Linked DNA regions of Homo sapiens. The protein of the gene in region 1 interacts with the protein of each later gene in a biochemical or structural test. Each region holds a gene or a part of one and is shown in the gene's direction. Other genes may lie near its edges. The genes, in order: TDG, ESR1, XPC, SUMO3, CREBBP, RAD1 and VDR.

Region 1 (3,500 bases):
GGCTGGTTATAAACTCCTGACCTCAGGTGATCTACCCTCCTCGGCCTCCCAAAGTGCTGGGTTTACAGGTGTGAGCCACTGTGCCCGGCCTTGTCACCTCATAAAGGTCCTACCTCTCAACACTTGCATTGGGGATTTAGTTTTCAACACGTGAACTTTGGGGGACACATTCAAACCATAGCAGTGGCAAAAAAAAAAAGCCCTAGCCCCAACAAAACAAAAATACCACCATCAATAAAAATCAAATATAGGCCTGGGTGCAGTGGCTCACATCTGTAATCCTAGCACTTGGGGAAACTGAGATGGGCAGATCTCTTGAGCTCAGAAGTTCAAGACCAGCCTGGCCAACATGGCAAAACCCTGTCTAGACAAAAATTACAAAAATTAGCCAGGCATTGGGGCTCGCTCCTGTAGTCCCAGCTACTTGGGAGGCTGAGGTGGGAGGATCACTTGAGATCTCCCACCTCAGAAGTAACAGTGAACCAAGATCACACTACTGCACTCCAACCTGGGTGACAGAGGGAGACCCTGTCTCCCCACACACACACACACACACACACACACAAACTAATGAAAAAATAAGTAAACAGGCAAATAAAAATAAACTAAAAGAGAATCTTAATTAGATTGGAGGGGATCTTCAGGTGATTAAATACTGAAGGAAAGTAGGGGCACAAATTGTATTTGGGGACATCTTAACCCTGTATGGGTTGATAGACCTTTCAAGTCTGTCTACTAGAAAACTCCCTCAAATCTTATTTCAGAGAAAGTATGGGCTGACTTGACAGGACTGATCAGTTTTATCAGTGACACATCTTATCATTTAAACAGTGCAAGAGTTAATGGTTGGTTATTAAGCACTCAGTAAAGGTTGGTGAACATGTACATACAGGACTAGATCTCTCCTCTGTAATCCACTCTAAATAAATACTTCAGTCTGGTTACAAAATACTTAATACTGTACTGAAGATTTTTGTACAGCTGATCATTTGGATTTACATTTGGGTAATTTTATCATTACATCTCATGCTTCATTATTCTTTCAGCTATTCCCTTCAGCAAGCTCAAGCTTTTTATACGTTTCCATTTCAACAACTGATGGCTGAAGCTCCTAATATGGCAGTTGTGAATGAACAGCAAATGCCAGAAGAAGTTCCAGCCCCAGCTCCTGCTCAGGAACCAGTGCAAGGTAGTTTCACCATGAGAGCTTAGAAAGTTCAACATCGGATCAGCCAGCTTATTTGAGAAAGGGTTTCATGGTGAATTTTAGCTCTATTTTAGTGTTAAAAAGTCAAATCCACTTTTTAAGTACTTAGTATGTGCTAAGCACTGATAGGTTCTGGGGAATAAAAGAACATGGGTCCTGCCCAAAAATATCTCATAATCTAGTAGAGAAAAGTAATAAGTAAATACACGTTACAGCTCAGCACAGTTTGTAGTGAAGAGGGGCATAGAATGAATGCCCTGAAAGCTTATGGGGTTGGCTTCTAACTCAGACTGATGGCTCAGAGGCTGCTTCCCAGAGCAGAGAAATAACACCAGGGCTCTGAAACTCCAACAATGTGGAGGCTTCATCCCGATAAAGATCAGAGTAGGGACATGTCCAGGCTGAGGGAGCTATACAGGCTGGGTACAGACACACACAAGCATGGCATGGCCAGAAACAGAGCAATTCTGTGTCCTTGGAGTCTGGGATATAACAAGGAAATGGTGAGAGGTGAGGCTGGATGGGGACAGTTGAAACTTGTTTTTTAATCCCAAAGAATTTATATTCTATCATGAAGGCAATAGGGAGCTGTTGAGAGAATGTAAGCAAGGGATGACTTACTTGACTGGTGCTTTACAAATTAGCCTGGAAATATTAGAGAAGATAGATTGGTTGGTAGACAACAAGTCGGAACTTGGAGGCAGGCCGGGCACAGTGGCTCATACCTGTAATCCCTGCACTTTGGAAGGCTGAGGCGGGTAGATCACCTGAGGTCAGGAGTTCATGACCAGCCTGGCGAACATGGCAAAACCCTGCCTCACACAAATTAGCCGGGCATGGTGGCGCACACCTGTGATTCCAGCTACTGGGGAGGCTGAGGCACGAGAATTGCTTGAATCCTGGAGGCGGAGGCTGAGAGGCTGCAGTGAGCCAAGATTGCACCACTGCACTCCAGCTGGGCAATAGTGCGAGACTCTGTCTCAAAAACAAAAACAAAAACAAAAACAAAAACAAAACTTGGAGTCAAGGAGTGGATTAGATGGATTAGAGACACTGTTTGAATAATCTAGGGGAGCACTGAGGAGGACCTGAAGGGGTGGAGAAAGAATTAGGAAACACTTAGGAGGTAGAATTACCTAGCCATGGCTAATGGGTTTCATGTGTTTGGGGGGAGCATGGCAGGATAGTGGGGGAGAAAGGGGAGTCCAGAAGTAACTACCAGGTTTCTGGCATTGGCATTTGGTTGGAGGAGGTGCCACTCACCAAGACAGAGAATTAGAAGAAAATAATAGGTTCCAGGGGTGGGAGAGTGGTTGGAGAGAAGTTAATGATTTTCTCCAGTGTAACAGTATTTTATGAGAAATGTGCTCAGGGTTTTGGTTTATGATTGCAGGAACACATCTAATAACTCTGCCTCCGCATTAGGACTTCCCCAGCTACATGCCAGTGATGGTGGATCTGTTGGCATAGGGAGTGGCTAAGACAATGTGAGGCAGAAGAGAGGAGGGACTGACTGCCTGTATCCTGCGAGGCTTGATTGGGGAAACGCCAAAGAGGAGTAGAATAGGGTAGAAGCCTGAGTAGTTAGGAGAAATGTTAAATAATTAAGGGTAAGAAAATCAGGGCTTCCTGTTGGGTAACTATAGGTCAGTGGTTTTCAATCAAGGGTGATTTTGCCCTCCCAAGGGACATTTGACATTGTCTGAAGACACTTTTGATGATCAAGACTGGCAGGTTACTACTGGCATCTAGTGGGTAGAGATCAGGGGTGCTATTAAACATTCTGTAATGTGCAGTACAGCCACCCACAACAAAAAATTATGCAACCTAAAATGTCAATAGTGTGGAGGCTGAGAAACTGCTTTACGTCCTGAGGTTGGATCCCTCCTCTTGCCTTTTGAAAAATACTGCCAGCCCAGAGATGTCATCCTGGGCACCCCTAAATTCCCCTCTTCAACTATGTATGGAACAGAATATACACCTCATCTCTAAAACAAGCCCACAAGCCATTGTGTTTTTCTTTTTTCTTTCTTTTTTTTTTTTGGACAGAGTCTTGCTCTGTTGCCCAGGCTGGAATGCAGAGGCATGATCTCAGCTCACTGCAACCTCCACCTCTTGGGTTCAAGCAATTCTCCTGCCTCAGCTTCCCGAGTAGTTGGAATTACAGGTGCACGACACCATGCCTGGCTAATTTTTGTATTTTTAGTAAAGACGGGGGTTTCACCATGTTGGCCAGGCTGGTCTTGAACTCCTGACGTCAGGTGATCTGCCTGCCTTGGCCTCCCAAAGTGCT
Region 2 (3,500 bases), on another chromosome or scaffold:
TATGGAGTAAGTCTGGGCCAAAATGATAATTGACAATGTTATTTACATGGATTTCTAAGTTGGCTAAAAAAGTTCCTTTATGGTTAGTGAATATAGCCCATGTAGTTTCCCCGTCTTCTTTAGATGCCTTCTATTTCTATGCCCAAAGTCTGCAGTTGATTTTCAGTAAGCTGGGGGTCATCTTAGAGATAAAATGTAGATGAATGGCATTTTGCTGACAGCATACATCTTTGCTATTTCTGAGGAAAATGGGCTCTCGCTATTAAATCTTTTGTCAATATTTATAAAAATAGTATTTACATATTCTATCTATATTGTGGAAACTATACATTTATTGATTCAGTCATTTGATATCAATGTTGTTGAGTCCCTATTCCAAGTGAGGCACTATGCTCTAAGCACATGGCATTTTAAAGATGAATAAGACACCAAGAACTTTGCAGATAGTAATGGAAATGAGAATTAATCAATTGAAGATTAATATAGTAAGTAGCAGAAGAGAAATAAAAAAATCTTCTAGAGAGTTCAGAACAGGGATGTTGATTCAAGTTTATGGGGATTAGGAGTGGCTGGTAAGGGAGGCATTCAGGCAAAAGACATAAAAATGCAGTATTCCCCTCGCACTCATTAGGATGGCTACTATATTAGAAAAAGAAGAGAGTAAGTGTTGGAGAGGATATAGAGCAAATAGAAACCTTGTGCCTTGTTCATGAGAATGTAAAATGGTGCAGCCACTGTGGAAAACACTGGTGATTCCTCAAAAAATCAAAATAGAATTATCATATGATCCAGTAATTCTACTTCTGGGTATATATCTAAAAGAATTAAAAATCTGGGTCTTGAAGAAATATTTGTATACTCATAGTTATAGCAACATTATTCATAATAGCCAAAAAGTAGAAGCAATCCAGATGTCTATAGATGGATGAATGGGTAAACAAAGTCTGTGTAGTATATACAGACAATGGCATATTAGTCACATCATGGACCTTCAGGACATTATCCTAAGTGAAATATGCTAGACACAAAAAGCAAAAGTAGGGTTTCACTTAATGAGGTATCTAGAATTGCCACATTCACAGAGAACAAAAGTAGATTGGTGGCTGCTAGGGGATAGGGGAAGGAGAAAATGGGGAATTATTGTTGAATGGGTATGGAGTTTCAGTTTTGTGAAATGAAAATGTTCTGAAGACTGGTTGCACGATGATGTGAGTATATCTAACATGATTGAATTGATGAACACTTAAGCGTGGTTACGATGGTAAATTTTGTGTTATATATATCTTACCACAATTTAAAAAATATAGCATTTTATTATGTAGGCGTGGGTGGGAAGATACTTGACACATTGGAACTTCTGGCCATGCGTATACTGTTCACTCACTTATTCCTTCATTCATTCAACAAACATGTATTGAATGCTTGCTATGTGCTGGGCACTGAGCTAGATATAACAATTAATAAGGCTTATAAGACATTGAATCTATCAATTTCATGCTTGCTAAATATCTACTCCCACCTCCAAAGGCACTAAGCTTCTACAGTTAGATATTCATAGCTGCTTCCTACTGACTTGAATCATGCATAGGATATTAGTAAACAAGCAATAAAAAGATTTGAGGTTGATGGGGGTGGGTTCAACAGCATGGTGGTGAAATGGAAAGAGATGGGTAACAGAATATGAACTAGAATTGAAAACTGTGAGCCAGTGCTCTCTAATGAACATTAAAAAATAAAGAATTCCTATTTGAGGCTGCCAACCTCAGAACTAAGTTATTTAGAATGGACGAAATTGGCAAAGTCAGACGTACTCAACCCAAGGAGCCAATATTTTGTGAATATTATGGCAAATGTAGTTTGAGAACCACTACCACAAAATTGTGAACCATAATAATGACTGAGAAGGCAGGGAGAGGTTATACAATTTGGGCTAAAAGGAAAGACAGGGCTTGTGAAGGGGAGCGCCAGTGAAAGTCAGTGTGGTTCGGGTATTTGGGTGGGGACTGGAAGCAGGAAGCTTGAGCTTCCTTTGCCAAGAGACCCTGCTGGAAGGGCTATCATCAATTGACTTTAGCTCATCTTAGGATTTTCATTTTTTAAAAAATGTTCACAGGAACCTTCACTCCATCTATACTTTCAATGTCTGCCTACCTTTCTTTCTTATACAACTTTGAACACTCTCTCCATTCATTTAAATATATTATGGAGTGCCAACTACATGCCAGGTACTGTGCTGGGCTCTTATTCCACCTTTATTTGATTGCACATGCCTGCCAAGTCCTGGGCCAATATAACATCTACTCCTATGTCTGGTCTGGCGAGAGATGCAAACTCATCTTCCTCTACTTTCCTTACCTCCTTCCTTCCAGTCTTCTTCAAGTTGTCTTCATTGAGGCAATTTCTTTTACCTGTGTTTTTAATCCCAACTCCTCTAGTTTCCTTCTTGGCTTTATTCTTTTATCTTCCTCTTTGTGCTTTCAAACATTCCCTTTCTCCTGGCCCATGCCCTTCAGTCTACACGAGGCCTTCTCAAGTCTCTTCATTCTAAAAAATTCATTTTCTTGGGTCTTATATTCTTCAGCTGCCACCCTATCTGTATCTTTTCCTATTCTCCTCCAAGTTCTCAAAGGAATGCCTTCCCTCATTTTCATCTCCTTACATTCCATCTGCTGAATTTTGGCTTGTGCCTGTACCTGTCTAAGGAAACTCCTTGCTAAGAGTCTGCTTTGTCAGGTCTGAATTCACTTAACCAGTCTTTGCTTTGTTGGACTTCTCTGCCCCATTTGCCATTCTTGATCATCCTCTCCATAAACCTTTCTACTTAAAGCATTTTACTTCCTTATTTTCTTGGTTTTCCTAGAATCTCCTTACTGTTCATTTTCAGCTTCCTTTCTGTGTTCCTCTTCTCTTCCTACATTTTTTTTTAGCTTTCTACTTTCTTAAAGCATTTTACTTCCTTATTTTCTTGGTTTTCCTAGAATTTTCTTACTGTTCATTTTCAGTTTCCTTTCTGTGTTCCTCTGATTGTCTCTCTTTCTACATTTTTTTTTTCTGTGTTCCTCTGATTTTCACGCAGTCTGGAGTTGTCATGATCAATCATAGCCTACTGCAGCCTCGACATCCTAGGCTCAAGTGATTCTCCCACCTCAGCCTTACAAGTAGCTAGGACTACAGTCACACATCACCATTCTCAGCTAATTTTTTTAAGAAGCATTTTTATAGAGATGGAGTCTTGCTATATTGTGCAGGCTGGGCTCAAACTACAGGGCTTAAACAATTCTCCTGCTTTGGCCTCCCAAAGTGCTGGGATTCCAGGCATGAACCACCATGCTCAGTCTCTACATGTTCCTAAAGAGGAGTTTTGAATATTGAAGAACAGTATTTTCAAATTACATTATTCAAGTTATAAAAACTGATATCCAGGGTTATGTGGCAATGACGTAAAAATTTGAATTGTTATTTTTTTGACACATGTTCTGTGTTGTCCATCAGTTCATCTG
Region 3 (3,500 bases), on another chromosome or scaffold:
CAGGGAACACTTGATTTTCTGCCTCCTAAGAAAGTTGAGGGGTGGGGAGAAGAGGAAGAACAGAGGGATAGTTTTTCATTTGCTTCATAAACAAATCCTCACTGCCAGTATCAGCTTTTCCAGCAGCCTCTAGTCCTGGGATGGGAGAGTAGTCCAGTAGAGGGCACAGGAAGGGACACGGGACAGCATGATGATTTTCCGCCATGATCCATCTCTTCTCCTTTTCTCTAGACTTCCCTTCCCGTCCCGCCCCGTCCCGTCCCCATCCCGGTCCCGTCCTTAATGGAGTCTCGCTCTGTTGCCCAGGCTGGAGTCTAGTGATGCAATCTTGGCTCACTGCAACCTCCGCCTCCCAGGTTCAAGTGAGCCTCCTGAGTAGCTGGGACTGTAGGTGCCCACCACCACGCCCAGCTAATTTTTGTATTTTTAGTAGAAACAGGGTTCCACCATGTTGGTGTCGAACTCCTGACCTCAGGTGATCTGCCCTGCTCAGCCTCCCAAAGTGCTGGGCTTACAGGCGTGAGCCATTGCGCCTGGCCTTCCCTAGACTTTTCTGAAGAATACCTCTGAACTTACTGCTTTCCAGTTGCCTCCCCTCACTAGTTGAATTCTATCTCCAGAGACATATACATAGAGATAGGCCACGATACTGCCAAGGAAAGCTCTGGGTCCCCCTTTCCCTCTCCCCTGAGCATTGACTGTGGTCATTTCTGCTATGTTCATTCTAAGGGGAAATTTTTATTGCTGGTGTTTTGAGAGAAAGTGGTACTCTAAAAAAAGAGTGTATTATTAGAGCTCAAGATTGATGATTGGTTATTTTAAATGTTTATACCAAAATCCTAGATAATATTCTCACTTGGTACCAAGTGCCAAAGTTTACACAAGTTAAAAGTAACTGGATACTCTAGACACATTTTATATATGAATTTGCAGAAATATATTACGTATCAGCAAGTACTTAGCCTTGAGCCATTGTTTAGCCAGCTACTTATCTATGTTATTATCTACTTAGCTAGCTAGCTGTCTATGTCTCTTGTTATTTATGACTCACCTATGTGTAGTTACATCCCTGCTTGAAGTTAGAATGCTATGAATTTCAGTCTCCTTACATCATATTTCTTAAAGATGGAAAAGAAGTCTGAGTAGGCTTATAGTAGGATATATAAATGGAGATTTTATTCTGTTCTTTCTGGCCTCCAACTGCACATATATCACACAGATATCACAGTTCTGGAACTCATTATTATTTTGGTGTCTTCTAATTTTTCCTTGTCATGTCCAGGCACAGCTATGTTTTCTTTCACACGATCTAGATTGTAGGTTTTTTAACAGCACATCTGGTAGTAATTAGACAGATGATCAGAGCACATCTTGATGAGATTTGGAACACATGTTGATGGAGGAAGTGAGGCTCAGAGCTTACTAATCATCTTTAAATAGTTGCAACAGATTCTCAATAAATAGGAGGGGTTTTAAAAATTCCATTTAGCTTGAATGGAACACTAGGATGTCTGAGTCTTCTTCATCTTCCTTCCTGTGGTCTTTACACAGGGACTTTCCAAGTGACCTCAAGAAGGCACACCATCTGAAGAGAGGGGCTACCATGAATGAAGACAGCAATGAAGAAGAGGAAGAAAGTGAAAATGATTGGGAAGAGGTTGAAGGTGAAACATCTTTCTTTGTTTTCAGAACTGTTTGGTTCTGTTTGTTTTTTTGTTTGATTCTGTTTGGAGTCAGATCACTAATTGCAATCCTTTTGTTTTCTTTTGAGCTAATTAGACCACAGATAAGGTTGTACTAGGGACTTGCTTTGATATATATGGAAAAACTCATGGCCAAGTTACCAAAGAAGGCTGTTTACTCTCTTCCTCTGGTGACTGTCAATGGGGTAGATATAAATAGAGAGGCAGCACTATTTAGGAGAAGGAGCACAGGCTTTGAAAGTAGTTAGAATTGGGTTCAGTGCTCAACTTTGCCACTTAGGTGGCAGTGTGAGTGAGTAATTTAATCTTGAGCAAGTAACTTCACCTCTCTGAACTGAGTTTTCTCATTGGTAACACTCTGTAAACACTGAATGTTTAGTGTGAGCCATTCACAGTATAGGCTGTAGGATTATTGTGGGGAAAAGAAAGTTTGCAAATGTAATGGGCCTAATGTATCATACACTCACAGTAAATACCAGCTAATGTTATCATCCCTGATTCCTTCTGTCTGGCCTGACTTTTCCTCACCTTTTTATTTTGAAAGTGTTCAAATTTATAAAAAGAGTGAAAAATGTAATATATGTCCTTCACCTAGGTTCATTAACATTTTGCCACATTGAATGTATGTTTCTCTCTGTAAATATTCATTGTGGAACCATTTGAAAATAAGTTGTAGATATTCTGATACTCCACTGCTGAATACTTCAGCCTGCATTTCCTAATAATTAGACATTCTCCTGCATGACAAAATGACCTCATCACACCTACGAAAATGAAAAATAAGTCCCCAATTGTTATGAAAGCATCCTTTATGCCTGTTTCTTTTTCCATACCAAGATCCAACCAAGCCTTGTATTTGGTCTTTATGTCACTTTACTCTCTTAATATAGAGCAGTATTTCCCACCTACCGCCTTGTTTTGCTTTTCATAGCACTGCCTTTTTTGAAGGATCCTAGTCTTTTGTTTTGTAGACTGTCTCATGTTCTAGTTTTGTCTGATAAACAGTCACACATCTCATGGTGGTGTTAAACTTGTTTCAATATCCCCTGTATTTCTTGTAAACTAAGTCCAAAGACATGTAATTTTGATTAAACTTTTATTTTTTTTCCAAGAATCCTTCCTAGATGATGCTTTAAACCTCATCTTGCATTGATTAAGCCACCTCTAATGTCAGGTTGTTCCTCTTCTAGTCATGCTACCTTTAAGCTAGCTGTACTACCATGTCCTTTTGACATGGCCTCATTAGTCTTTGAGAACATTTTTGTTCAGCTTATACTTTTCTTGCTGTAGACTTGAAACCAGCCTTTTTTTCTTCAAGAAGCTGTGGTTCATTTTAATAGAGATTCATGTATAGAGACCAAGATCTGGCATTAGATGCATTCTTTGCCAGTAAGATGTCATGGCTTCTAGGCCCAGAGCCTCTTTTAAGGAACTTTTGCTAATGAAGTTTTCAATTAGATCCAGTTCAGCAAGTTCAGTCCTTCTCAGCTACTGTATACAAGCAACGTAGGGGGTGAAGAGATGAAAAGGATATATTTTTTGTCACTTACAAGTTTATAATTGAGAATGAAAGATGGACACCTGAGTCATGACTCTATACAAAGCAAATTGTGCTAATTGTTATTGTGGTAATACAGAATACAGAGAAAAGGAGATTATTCTCACTTGGGTTTTTTTTTTTTAAAGAGTTTTAAGTATATACATACATGCATGAGTGTCAGCTTTTTGATAGAGGGGTCTGTATCTGATTCAACCCAGTATCTCTATGCTTTAGGTTCTTTATCTAAAGACTGTCTG
Region 4 (2,946 bases), on another chromosome or scaffold:
GAATGTTTTATGTGGAAATATTTTTGCAAAACATTTAAGATTTTAAATATTTACTATTCAGTATTTAATAAATATTGAAAACATCTTTGCAACAAGTATCCATTTGTACCTACTTGAGGAAACCTACACACCGCTGAGGCAGTGGCAGCTCTGGGAGTGTTCACCAGGGAGAAGCTGCTGAGAGCAGCTGAGCAGGGAGGGCCTCGTGGAGTCTCTGGGGCTTGACTGGGGGTCAGGGGGCTGGCTGTGGACAGGTGGACCGAGAGGCAGAGGGAGCCCTGCCTGGGGGCTCTCCCTCCAGCCCATAGTGTCGGTGGCAGGGTGAGGGTGGCCGACAGCCCTGATGGGACTCCTTTCCATCTGGGAGCATGACTACTTCCAGCCTTGCTGAGTCTGTGTAGGAACTGGCAGAAGCTTCCTCTTGCTTAGAGGATGGAAGAAGATCAGGGTGGGTGTTTTGCGCCCACTGTGTCAGGAGGAGAGAAGTGAGCGGGGGTGTTTCACTACCTTGCCTGGGCTTTAAATGGGGAGGGGCGGGGAGAAGCTGGCAATGGACCCTCACTTGACGGGCCCTTCTGTGAGCTGGGGGCTTTGGCTTTCATGGCATGGTCCCCCGCACTTGGTATAAAGCGCAAGGCTCCTGTGGGTCCTAGGACTCAGTGCTGCTAATCAGATGTTCTTAATTAGAATCTGATTTTGTGTAATTTTCAGTAAGAATTTTAGACATTTCAGTTTATCTTCTAGACTCAGTTTTTCTCTCAGTTAACATTTTAGCTTTGAATCTGCTTTTGTGAGTTTTGTTAGGGGAAGCTTGTTGAACCGTAAGGGCTGTAGTGAGCATACAGCAATGCCTCTTCCATGCGTGCTGAGCTGCAGTGAGGGGACGGACAAGAGCCAAGGTGTGACCAGGTGATGTCGCTAGTGTCAGGGAACACTCATGCCAGTGAGGATCTTCCCACTCTCTGATGAAAACTAACAGGCTCCCCTCTCTCTCGCTGTGCCTGTTGTGACAACCATGACAGCTGGAGATGGAGGACGAGGACACCATCGACGTGTTCCAGCAGCAGACGGGAGGTGTGCCGGAGAGCAGCCTGGCAGGGCACAGTTTCTAGAGGGCCCGTCCCCAGCCCGGGCCGTCCATCCTCGCATTGCTGTTGAATGGTGAGCACGTGACCATGCCGACCACAAAGGTGTCTGCGGAAACTCGAGGACATTCACCACGATGATTTTCCTCTCTTTGATGTACTTCAAGTGCAACTCAAAACTATATCTGCAGGGATGAATCTGTAACTTAAATTGGGCCAATCAGAATTGTTATCTTTGTTCAGGTAAAATGAGTTGCAAGATATTGTGGGTACTTTTGTGTGCTCATTTGTGTTTTCCCCCCCTCCTACAACATTTTTTTAACCCCAAAATTATAGCCTGAATGTTCGCTTTTAGTCTGGCCAGGGATCTGACTCCTGAGTTGGTTGCCTCTCCCCTGCTCACTCCAGTCACATAGAGAATTGGTGTTTCCCGCAGTGGGGATGCAGCTGTTGGACAGGTATTGGGGGCAAGGTTGGTAGGGAGGACAGACTGTCACTTGCTGTTACAGGCACAGGTGATTAAAATGCTAAATATTGCAAATTTAAGCTTTGTCAGTATATGGAAAAGTTGAAGGGAAAATACTGGAATGCTTCTTCAAAGGTTAAAAAATAACCGAGTCTTTTGGTAATTTGACCCCACGTGCTCTCTGGCCCTCAAGCATGTAACCTCGGGGTCTGAGGCCCAGGACCCACCCCCCTGCCACCCCTCCCACCCCACTCCCTGCTCAGTACCTGGCGTTGGTACACAGGCAAGGATTGGCACAACCAAAATTGGCCTTTTTCTCCCTCTTAATATTGAAGAAATTCCCACATTTCTCATTTGGTAATGGTGTTGTGGCCTCAGATTTCTTCTAGTATTTGCTTCTGATGAATGATTATGGTCTATACATAAAAAAGTAAGACTAAGTATTGCTGAATTTGCAGTTATGTTGTCGTGTATAAGAGCTACTTCCAAGTGTGGTTACAAATGAACCCATGGAATGATGACTTCATGTTCTTCTCGTGGGTTTGTGCCGTGCTGCTTTCCAAATAGGTATTGAATTTATGCATTAGTCTGGTGATTTCAGTTCTGTGAAATATTTTGGGATCTATACCAATTAAACATTTTCATAGTTCTGCCTATTGTCCTTCCCTGAGGCTCCATTGCTGCTTGGTGGCCATTCTCTGCCTTTTTACAGTCACCTGAACAATGACCCATCATCTCTTGCTTGCTTGAAATCTTGCTGAAATGTTCTCATTTCCTGTTTGCTGTATGGGCTCGGGTGGGATGTTTGTTGGCTCTGTTGTGTTTATTCACCAATTTGTACATTATTTGTTGTCCTTTACTACTGTAAACAGTAAATATAGTTTGGTATTCTGTCTCTTGGCTTCTACTAAACACTGCATTTGAAGGTTGGGGCATACTGGTACAATTCAGTGTTTGAATTGACCATTCCAGGCAGCCACTGCACTGAGAAACTTTGATTGAAAAGCTAGCCGCTGGAAGGTTAGTATTCGCCTGGCAGCTCATTTCCCCTCCCCTGGCACATCACCAATGCTAGTCCAGCCTTCTTCCTGCTGAGGGATGCATCCTCTCCTCAGAGACCTCCTGGCTGACAGCTGTCTGAGCTGGCATCACTGTGACATGTTACCCTCCCTCTCCTGGGTTTCGTATGTAAAGAAAGGGTGGATTTTAGAGGCAGGTGAGCTTGGGTGTTAGTCTAGGACATCTCTCGTTTTCTGGTGTTTGAATGTAAGTCAGCTTTCCTTCTGCCATGGACAACTTACCTATCTGCTTTGAAACTGAACTGACATTGATTTGGCTTTAAGAATTTCCCAGTGTGCAGTGGTGTAACAAAACCCAGGTTGAAAATGAGCTGTT
Region 5 (3,080 bases), on another chromosome or scaffold:
AGATGGAACTGCGACTTCCGAGCCATGGAAGGGTGGATTGATGTTTAAAGAAACAATACAAAGAATATATTTTTTTGTTAAAAACCAGTTGATTTAAATATCTGGTCTCTCTCTTTGGTTTTTTTTTGGCGGGGGGGTGGGGGGGGTTCTTTTTTTTCCGTTTTGTTTTTGTTTGGGGGGAGGGGGGTTTTGTTTGGATTCTTTTTGTCGTCATTGCTGGTGACTCATGCCTTTTTTTAACGGGAAAAACAAGTTCATTATATTCATATTTTTTATTTGTATTTTCAAGACTTTAAACATTTATGTTTAAAAGTAAGAAGAAAAATAATATTCAGAACTGATTCCTGAAATAATGCAAGCTTATAATGTATCCCGATAACTTTGTGATGTTTCGGGAAGATTTTTTTCTATAGTGAACTCTGTGGGCGTCTCCCAGTATTACCCTGGATGATAGGAATTGACTCCGGCGTGCACACACGTACACACCCACACACATCTATCTATACATAATGGCTGAAGCCAAACTTGTCTTGCAGATGTAGAAATTGTTGCTTTGTTTCTCTGATAAAACTGGTTTTAGACAAAAAATAGGGATGATCACTCTTAGACCATGCTAATGTTACTAGAGAAGAAGCCTTCTTTTCTTTCTTCTATGTGAAACTTGAAATGAGGAAAAGCAATTCTAGTGTAAATCATGCAAGCGCTCTAATTCCTATAAATACGAAACTCGAGAAGATTCAATCACTGTATAGAATGGTAAAATACCAACTCATTTCTTATATCATATTGTTAAATAAACTGTGTGCAACAGACAAAAAGGGTGGTCCTTCTTGAATTCATGTACATGGTATTAACACTTAGTGTTCGGGGTTTTTTGTTATGAAAATGCTGTTTTCAACATTGTATTTGGACTATGCATGTGTTTTTTCCCCATTGTATATAAAGTACCGCTTAAAATTGATATAAATTACTGAGGTTTTTAACATGTATTCTGTTCTTTAAGATCCCTGTAAGAATGTTTAAGGTTTTTATTTATTTATATATATTTTTTGAGTCTGTTCTTTGTAAGACATGGTTCTGGTTGTTCGCTCATAGCGGAGAGGCTGGGGCTGCGGTTGTGGTTGTGGCGGCGTGGGTGGTGGCTGGGAACTGTGGCCCAGGCTTAGCGGCCGCCCGGAGGCTTTTCTTCCCGGAGACTGAGGTGGGCGACTGAGGTGGGCGGCTCAGCGTTGGCCCCACACATTCGAGGCTCACAGGTGATTGTCGCTCACACAGTTAGGGTCGTCAGTTGGTCTGAAACTGCATTTGGCCCACTCCTCCATCCTCCCTGTCCGTCGTAGCTGCCACCCCCAGAGGCGGCGCTTCTTCCCGTGTTCAGGCGGCTCCCCCCCCCCGTACACGACTCCCAGAATCTGAGGCAGAGAGTGCTCCAGGCTCGCGAGGTGCTTTCTGACTTCCCCCCAAATCCTGCCGCTGCCGCGCAGCATGTCCCGTGTGGCGTTTGAGGAAATGCTGAGGGACAGACACCTTGGAGCACCAGCTCCGGTCCCTGTTACAGTGAGAAAGGTCCCCCACTTCGGGGGATACTTGCACTTAGCCACATGGTCCTGCCTCCCTTGGAGTCCAGTTCCAGGCTCCCTTACTGAGTGGGTGAGACAAGTTCACAAAAACCGTAAAACTGAGAGGAGGACCATGGGCAGGGGAGCTGAAGTTCATCCCCTAAGTCTACCACCCCCAGCACCCAGAGAACCCACTTTATCCCTAGTCCCCCAACAAAGGCTGGTCTAGGTGGGGGTGATGGTAATTTTAGAAATCACGCCCCAAATAGCTTCCGTTTGGGCCCTTACATTCACAGATAGGTTTTAAATAGCTGAATACTTGGTTTGGGAATCTGAATTCGAGGAACCTTTCTAAGAAGTTGGAAAGGTCCGATCTAGTTTTAGCACAGAGCTTTGAACCTTGAGTTATAAAATGCAGAATAATTCAAGTAAAAATAAGACCACCATCTGGCACCCCTGACCAGCCCCCATTCACCCCATCCCAGGAGGGGAAGCACAGGCCGGGCCTCCGGTGGAGATTGCTGCCACTGCTCGGCCTGCTGGGTTCTTAACCTCCAGTGTCCTCTTCATCTTTTCCACCCGTAGGGAAACCTTGAGCCATGTGTTCAAACAAGAAGTGGGGCTAGAGCCCGAGAGCAGCAGCTCTAAGCCCACACTCAGAAAGTGGCGCCCTCCTGGTTGTGCAGCCTTTTAATGTGGGCAGTGGAGGGGCCTCTGTTTCAGGTTATCCTGGAATTCAAAACGTTATGTACCAACCTCATCCTCTTTGGAGTCTGCATCCTGTGCAACCGTCTTGGGCAATCCAGATGTCGAAGGATGTGACCGAGAGCATGGTCTGTGGATGCTAACCCTAAGTTTGTCGTAAGGAAATTTCTGTAAGAAACCTGGAAAGCCCCAACGCTGTGTCTCATGCTGTATACTTAAGAGGAGAAGAAAAAGTCCTATATTTGTGATCAAAAAGAGGAAACTTGAAATGTGATGGTGTTTATAATAAAAGATGGTAAAACTACTTGGATTCAAAGATGGTTCAGATTGGCTAATGACTTACAGTTAGCTCAACGGCTCGTCATTATAGGATTGCAGATGCGGGCCCGGTGCGGTGGCTCACGCCTGTAATCCCAGCACTTTGGGAGGCCAAGGCGGGTGGATCATGAAGTCGGGAGTTCGAGACCAGCCTGGCCAAGAAGGTGAAACCCCATCTCTATTAAAATACAAAAAAATTAGCCGGGTGTGGTGGCAGGCGCCTAGAATCCCAGCTACTCAGGAGGCTGAGGCAGAGAATCGCTTGAACCCAGGAGGCGGAGGTTGCAGTGAGCCGGGATCGTGCCACTGCACTACAGCCTGGGCAACAGTGAGATTTTGTCTCAAAAAAACGATTGTAGGTGGTGCTGGCCGGGCTTGGTGGCTCATGCCTGTAATCCCAGCACTTTGGGAGTCTGAGGCGGGCAGATCACATGGTCAGGAGTTTGAGACGAGCCTGGCCAATATGGTGAAACCCCATCTCTACTACAAAAAATACAA
Region 6 (3,500 bases), on another chromosome or scaffold:
TAATTATACATTTTCTAATACAGTGTTCTCCAGCTAGTTTTTCACAGAAGCATCTGTCATCTTCCATTCCTCACTGTGGCTCTCAATCCAGTAAGGAGAAGGAGTTTGAATATCCTGTCATATTCCTCCTTCCCTCTAGTGGTTTGCAGAGTTAAAATTTACACCACCATTAACAACCCTCTTTTTCTCTCAATTTGATTTTTAAATTCGAGGAAATATAAAGAATATCTCCCAGTTGGAAAAGTTGGAAGGATCCTTGTCATAGTGAGTACACTGACGTTACAGTACAGATGACAGCAATCCACTGTTACACACATTGAACCTTCAAGGAATAGCATACCCTGTTCTGCAGCAATTTAGTTACTTGCTGTGTTGATCCATATAGATTCTCTACCCTGAAATTGTACATATATAAAATCAACAAGCTATTTCTGAGGTGTGTATGACAACCTGAAAATGATTCCAAAGAATTATGTTACATTTTGTTCTGGTTCCCAATTTTCTTGTAGTTTTGGAATTCTCTACACACAACTGTCATCAGGGAAGATGTCATCCCTTTTTATGAGGAGATACATATATGTGAGAAATTGGGCGGAATAAATTATTCTTGAGAAATTTTATGTATCATTTCGAGGAGAAGCTGAACCCAGAACTATAAAGCTAAGGCCAAGTATGACTTCTTTCCATTGCAGGGACTTTAACTGCACTTCGAATGTGTTACCAAGGTTATGGTTACCCTTTGATGCTGTTCCTGGAAGAAGGAGGAGTGGTGACAGTCTGCAAAATCAATACACAGGAACCTGAGGAGACCCTGGACTTTGATTTCTGCAGCACCAATGTTATTAATAAAATTATTCTGCAGTCAGAGGGGCTCCGTGAAGCATTTTCTGAATTGGATATGACGAGTGAAGTCCTACAAATTACCATGTCTCCTGACAAGCCTTATTTCAGGTACTTGAGAGCAGTGCAGTTATAGTTAATGTGGTCTGTACTCCATCTTCCCACTTAGACATTTGCTTAGGATGCAAAATTTTTATTATCCACATTTTTAGAGTTTTCACAACTTTAGACAGCTTGTACTCTTACCTCATAATTTTATGGATCAAGAAACTTAAGACCCAGGAAGATTAACTCACTATTTCATATTTAGGTGGTGGTGGCATCTAGATGAGAAGCCCAGTCCTCTAATTTATAAACTGGTGGTGTTTTCATTGTACTACTCCTTACTTTCATAGATCAGGTTACATCATGAGGAAAATTGGGTTTAAGTGTTTGGAAAGGGTGTTTGTATTATGGTATCTTTTTCAAGTTAGTTCAGGATGCAGAAGAAGATGTTTTCTACACGTGGCTCATTCATTCACTAAGTATCTGTTGATCACCTACCGTGTGCTTATTCATCTTATTAAGCATTGTGGGAAGAACAGCTTAAAACCAAGGTGAAGCCAAGAAAATGTGAAACAGCAAACCATTAAGTACCAAGATAGCACACACAGATACCTGGGAAATGCTGTATAAGGATTTAGGGAGGATTGCTCAAGGCTGGCTTCCCAAGGGAGGGCAGTTTTCAGCAGGAGTACAATGTCAAAAAAGCTGTTCTTGATAGTTTAACACAAGTCTCTTTTCAGGATTAGACTCAGAGATTCTAGCAATTTAGAGAGAGGATCTAAATATTCTCTTTTTGAAATATTTCAGAATATTAAAGCCCCTAAATACATATGGAATAAAAGGAATAAGGTATTCTTTTTGTAACTACTTTAGAAGAATTACAGGCCCGGCTGTAAAAGTGCTGTGGCAGACACCTGTAATCCCAGCACTTTGGGAGGCCGAAGTGGGCAGATCACTTGAGGTCAGGAGTTCAAGACCAGCCTGGCCAATGTGGTGAAACCCTGTCTCTACTAAAAATAGAAAAATTAGTTGGGCGTGGTGGCACGTGCCTATAATCCCAGCTACTTGGGAGGCTGAGGTGGGAGAATCACTTGAACCCAGGAAGTGGAGGTTGCGGTGAGCTGAGATTGCGCCACTGCACTCCAGCCTGGGTGACAGAGTGAGAATCTGTCTCAAAAAAAAAAAAAGAAAAGAAAAAGAATCACAGGCCCTTGTCATGACTTTGGGGAGTTAAAAATTTGGCTCAAGGTCTGAGAAAGTTAACCAAAATGGAAATTGGAAACCTTACTTTAGCAGTGGAATGAAGTAAAAAATTCAGGTACTTAAAACAGTATTTCAGGGGATCTCCTCAGTGATCTCTCTCAGCCTGGGTAACGAGATGGACCATGGTATCTTTCATCTCCAGGATGGGAAACAATTTGGTGGTAGGGAGGTAGGAGTTGAAATTTTTTCCTGGATATGTTAAATTTTAAGTACCTGCGACACTAGGGAGTGGCTGGATATGTAGTTATGGTGCTCAGGAGATCCATTTAGACTGGAAATTTAGATTTGGGAACCATCATCATGGCTGGGTATGGATGAGACGGGTCAGAGAGAGAGATTATATTAGAAGAAAGAAAAGATGGACCCCAGGAAAACCACACCTGGAAGATGGGAGGCAGAAATGGAGCTTAGGGAAAACCAACCTGGATCTTATCGCCATGCTCATATAATACTTAGCAACGTGCTAATCCTGCAGCAAATGTTCCAGGAGTTCTTGCAAATTAAATCAGCATGTTAACACTTATAAATTGTCTACAAATAACTTCTGGTATTACCAAGTGAGGAAAACCATGCAATAGCCTTAAGAGCAGTCTAAGATACAGAAAAGCTGTAATTCCTAGGTGTAGGATTGGGAACAGACCTAAGGGTTGCAGTAGACTTAGATCAAGGTCTTCCATGAGTCCTCAATTCTCTCGCCTGTTATATATTTCTGACTTAAGGATGAGGAAAAGTCATTTTCAGAGTAGGATTAGGGTAATGAAATTAAAGTGTCCCCTACCCTTTTCCTTTTACAATTGATTTTCTTCAAACCCATTGATTAGTTGTCCTGAACTCCAGTGGGAGCTTTATTATGGTACTTGTTATCGTGTGTTATAAGCATTTGTGTACATGTCTGTTTCACCCACTAGTATGAATTTCTTAAGGAAGTGTTTTCTTTATTTGGATCCTAATGTGGTTTATTTTTGGATGAATGAATAAATGAGGTAATCATTTTCTATAGGTTATCTACTTTTGGAAATGCAGGAAGTTCCCACCTTGACTATCCCAAAGATTCTGATTTGATGGAAGCATTTCATTGTAATCAGACCCAAGTCAACAGGTCAGTTCTTAATATAGAGGTTGTCATTGGTGATAAAGAGGAGGTTAAATACCAGATTTCTGTTAAATAAAAACACTTTCAATCTGTTAATTAAAATGCACAGCATTTTATAAAAATGAATAGTAGAGTGCTGGACTTACTAGGGGATGTAGGGTTCTAACAGTGAATGAATTTTAAAACAGAAAATATTAGCAAATTGGATAAGTACTTGATTTTATTCTTAGATTTGCTACTTTTTATCCTTTACTTGGGA
Region 7 (3,500 bases), about 56 Mb from region 1:
TAAACCACAAATGAGTGTACTATCACGTGGATTGTAGCTCAATAGAAGAGGTCATTAATCTCGGCGCTAACAACCCCATGGCTGTGTCCAGAGGCCCTGAGCTCCCTGACCCTAGGAGAGTCCTGCAGAGGTTATGTAGGAGCCATCTCTAAGAGTTCCTAAGAGGGGCCCTCCAACTCTAGCACGTTGTGATTTTTTTTCAATACAGATCCTTTGCTGGCCATCCTGATCATGCAAGCCTTCTCATTTCCCACCATCTATCACCCATTGATACAACACTCTCATCAGTTAATATCAGCTTCCCATCTTTATATATAAACATGCAGCCATTGACGGGGTGACAGCCTATCTGCAGGATATCCAGGAGGAAGTAGACAGTCAGGAAGAGAAAGGGAGTAAAAGCCAGAAGCAAGCTGATTTGTGAGCCCTGCCTTTTCCTCGCCATTGTTCAGACAAGCCCATTCCTGACTCAGAATAGTGGAACTAGTCATTGGCCTCTCAAATCATCAACGCATCTCTATTGATCATCTTGTGCTGACGGCTCAATGGTCAGTGTGTGGGCAACAGTAAGGTGATTAAGAGGAGGTGCTGGCCCCCAAGTAACTTACAAACAAGAGTAGAAAACAAGTGGCCGGGTGCAGTGGCTCACGCCGTAATCCCAGCTCCTTGGGAGGCTGAGGCAGGCAGATTATCTGAGGTCAGGAGTTCGAGACCAGCCTGGCCAACATGGCGAAACCCCGTCTCTACTAAAAATACAAAAATTAGCTGAGTGTGGTGGCAGGTGCCTCTAATCCCAGCTACTCAGGAGGCTGAGGTAGGAGAATTGCTTGAACCTGGGAGGTGGAGGTTGCAGTGAGCCAAGATCTCACCACTGCACTCCAGCCTGGGCAACAGAGCAAGACTCTGTCTCAAAAAAAAAAAAAAAAAAAAAAAAAAAAAGGAGTAGAAAACAAGCATGTAAAGAGCAGAACTGGAGGAGACGGGCAAAATAAGAGCACCAGCAATGTTCAAGGCATCACAATGACATGGCCCTAACTGTGCTAAAGAGTCAGAAGGTGCGGGGCTCCAGTGGAAAACACAGTGGATTCAGGACCAGAAAAACAAAATGGAGAATTAGAAGGGTATTCCTGGCTGGAGCTGTAGTATGCTGAAAGGCGTGGTGATGGCTGGGTGCAGTGGCTCACACCTGTAACCCTGGTTCTTTGAGAGGCCAAGATGAGAGGATCACTTGAGGCCAGGAATTTGAGACCAGCCTGGGCCACATAGTGAGACACCATCCCTACAAAAAAAATTTAAAAATTAGCTAGGCGTACACCTGTAATCCCAGCACTTTGGGAAGCCTAGGCAGGCAGATCACAAGGTCAGGAGATCGAGACCATCCTGGCTAACACTGTGAAACCTCGTCTCTACTAAAAATACAAAAAAAAATTAGCTGGCCATGGTGGCGGGCACCTGTAGTCCCAGCTACTCGGGAGGCTGAGGCAGGAGAATGGCGTGAACCTGGGAGGCGAAGCTTGCAGTGAGCCGAGATCGCGCCACTGCACTCCAGCCTGGGCGACAAAGTGAGACTCCGTCTCAAAAAAAATTAGCTAGGCGTGATGGTGTGCACCTGTAGTCCCAGCTACTTAGGAGGCTGAGGCAGGAGGACTGCTTGAGCCCAGGAGTTTGAGGCTGCAGTAAGCCATAATCATTCTGTTGCACTCCAGCTTGTGTGACAGAACAGGACACTGTCTCTAAAAATACTAATAAAAGAAATTAGCTGAGCATGGTGGCGCATGCTTGTAGTCTTAGCTATTCGGAAGGCTGAGGTGGGAGACTCACTTGAGCCCAGGAGTTTGAGGCTGTAGCATGCTATGATCATAACACTGCACTCCAGCCTCAGCAACAGAGTGAGATCCTGTCACAAGAAAAAAAAAAGGCACAGTGAGAACACACAGCATCTGAATGTGGAGTGGCATGATGCTGCTAGAATGGAAGGTTGGTGGAGTTTACCATGGGAAAGGGAGTTGGAATGAGAGGTTGGAGCCAAGTTAGGGAGTGTGGGCCTGATCCTAGGGTGTTTGAGAGTCAGTGAAGATTTCTGAGTGCAAGAGGACATTGACCTGCAGCAGTGGTAAGAAAGATGAATGAGAGACTGGAGAGACACAAGTCTGGGATTCCTGTAAGAGGCTATTGGAAAAGACGCTGGAGCTCTGAACCAGGGCACTCCTGGTAGGAGTGGGAATAAGATCACGGGCTTGAGAGACATCCTAGAGACAGAGTTGGCTGAATTTACTACTGAGAAGGACTGGAGGACAGTAGGAGGGAGAGGAGGAGAAAACTTGGGTGTTGTTGAAGATACCATGGCCCTACCTTTTGCAGACCACCATATTCATGCCTCAATGCTGGGAACTTCCCTGGGCTCCGTTTCCTGTGCCCCATAGCTCTGGCTGCTTGGTCTCTGAGTTTTTCTTGTCTTAGTAACTGAGCTACTTCACTTCTGGCCTTGGCACATGATCACAGTGTTGAACTGTTCTCTCTCAAGGAACACTCTTGTCCCTTCCAGCCAGCCTGCAAGCTCCTCGATGAAAGACCCAGGGTGCATGTTGGTGCCCAGCAGGTGTATACCTGTCAAAGCACTAAACTGATTTGTGTGGCTTGAAGGCGTTTACTGGTAACCTGACCTCCTTCCCTCCCTCCCCTGCAGAGACCTCACCTCTGAGGACCAGATCGTACTGCTGAAGTCAAGTGCCATTGAGGTCATCATGTTGCGCTCCAATGAGTCCTTCACCATGGACGACATGTCCTGGACCTGTGGCAACCAAGACTACAAGTACCGCGTCAGTGACGTGACCAAAGGTATGCCTAGACTCCACCTCCTGGGGAGTCTTTTTCAGCTCCCAGATTCTGGCTCCACCCGTCCTGGGGTTTGGCTCCAATCAGATACATGGGAGGGAGTTAGGCACCAACAGGGAGAGAAGGGCGAGGGTCAGACCCATGGGGTTGGAGGTGGGTGGGCGGCTCCTCAGCTCTGCCCGCAGTACCTGGCCATTGTCTCTCACAGCCGGACACAGCCTGGAGCTGATTGAGCCCCTCATCAAGTTCCAGGTGGGACTGAAGAAGCTGAACTTGCATGAGGAGGAGCATGTCCTGCTCATGGCCATCTGCATCGTCTCCCCAGGTATGGGGCCAGGCAGGGAGGAGCTCAGGGACCTGGGGAGCGGGGAGTATGAAGGACAAAGACCTGCTGAGGGCCAGCTGGGCAACCTGAAGGGAGACGTAGCAAAAGGAGACACAGATAAGGAAATACCTACTTTGCTGGTTTGCAGAGCCCCTGTGGTGTGTGGACGCTGAGGTGCCCCTCACTGCCCTTAGCTCTGCCTTGCAGAGTGTGCAGGCGATTCGTAGGGGGGATTCTGAGGAACTAGATAAGCAGGGTTCCTGGGGCCACAGACAGGCCTGCGCATTCCCAATACTCAGGCTCTGCTCTTGCGTGAACTGGGCTCAACATTCCTGTTATT

What was found.
Region 2: the proteins of TDG (region 1) and ESR1 form a complex in vitro, tested with the Homo sapiens proteins (one study listed by BioGRID).
Region 3: the proteins of TDG (region 1) and XPC form a complex in vitro, tested with the Homo sapiens proteins (one study listed by BioGRID).
Region 4: the proteins of TDG (region 1) and SUMO3 form a complex in vitro, tested with the Homo sapiens proteins (one study listed by BioGRID).
Region 5: the proteins of TDG (region 1) and CREBBP form a complex in vitro, tested with the Homo sapiens proteins (2 studies listed by BioGRID, with this or other methods).
Region 6: the proteins of TDG (region 1) and RAD1 form a complex in vitro, tested with the Homo sapiens proteins (one study listed by BioGRID).
Region 7: the proteins of TDG (region 1) and VDR form a complex in vitro, tested with the Homo sapiens proteins (one study listed by BioGRID).

Annotation. Positions count from the first base shown.
Region 1 is NC_000012.12:103,975,872-103,979,371, forward strand, and holds part of TDG (G/T mismatch-specific thymine DNA glycosylase), read left to right. Parts: intron 1-1,046; coding exon 1,047-1,189; intron 1,190-3,500. UniProt on the Homo sapiens protein: DNA glycosylase that plays a key role in active DNA demethylation: specifically recognizes and binds 5-formylcytosine (5fC) and 5-carboxylcytosine (5caC) in the context of CpG sites and mediates their excision through base-excision repair (BER) to install an unmethylated cytosine.
Region 2 is NC_000006.12:151,838,682-151,842,181, forward strand, and holds part of ESR1 (estrogen receptor), read left to right. Parts: intron 1-3,500.
Region 3 is NC_000003.12:14,168,602-14,172,101, reverse strand, and holds part of XPC (DNA repair protein complementing XP-C cells), read left to right. Parts: intron 1-1,551; coding exon 1,552-1,664; intron 1,665-3,500. UniProt on the Homo sapiens protein: Involved in global genome nucleotide excision repair (GG-NER) by acting as damage sensing and DNA-binding factor component of the XPC complex. Has only a low DNA repair activity by itself which is stimulated by RAD23B and RAD23A.
Region 4 is NC_000021.9:44,805,117-44,808,062, reverse strand, and holds the end of SUMO3 (small ubiquitin-related modifier 3 isoform 1 precursor), read left to right. Parts: intron 1-1,022; coding exon 1,023-1,112; 3' UTR 1,113-2,446; downstream 2,447-2,946. UniProt on the Homo sapiens protein: Ubiquitin-like protein which can be covalently attached to target lysines either as a monomer or as a lysine-linked polymer. Does not seem to be involved in protein degradation and may function as an antagonist of ubiquitin in the degradation process.
Region 5 is NC_000016.10:3,724,554-3,727,633, reverse strand, and holds the end of CREBBP (CREB-binding protein), read left to right. Parts: 3' UTR 1-2,580; downstream 2,581-3,080. UniProt on the Homo sapiens protein: Acetylates histones, giving a specific tag for transcriptional activation. Mediates acetylation of histone H3 at 'Lys-18' and 'Lys-27' (H3K18ac and H3K27ac, respectively).
Region 6 is NC_000005.10:34,909,005-34,912,504, reverse strand, and holds part of RAD1 (cell cycle checkpoint protein RAD1), read left to right. Parts: intron 1-692; coding exon 693-951; intron 952-3,148; coding exon 3,149-3,247; intron 3,248-3,500. UniProt on the Homo sapiens protein: Component of the 9-1-1 cell-cycle checkpoint response complex that plays a major role in DNA repair. The 9-1-1 complex is recruited to DNA lesion upon damage by the RAD17-replication factor C (RFC) clamp loader complex.
Region 7 is NC_000012.12:47,845,995-47,849,494, reverse strand, and holds part of VDR (vitamin D3 receptor), read left to right. Parts: intron 1-2,686; coding exon 2,687-2,838; intron 2,839-3,043; coding exon 3,044-3,160; intron 3,161-3,500.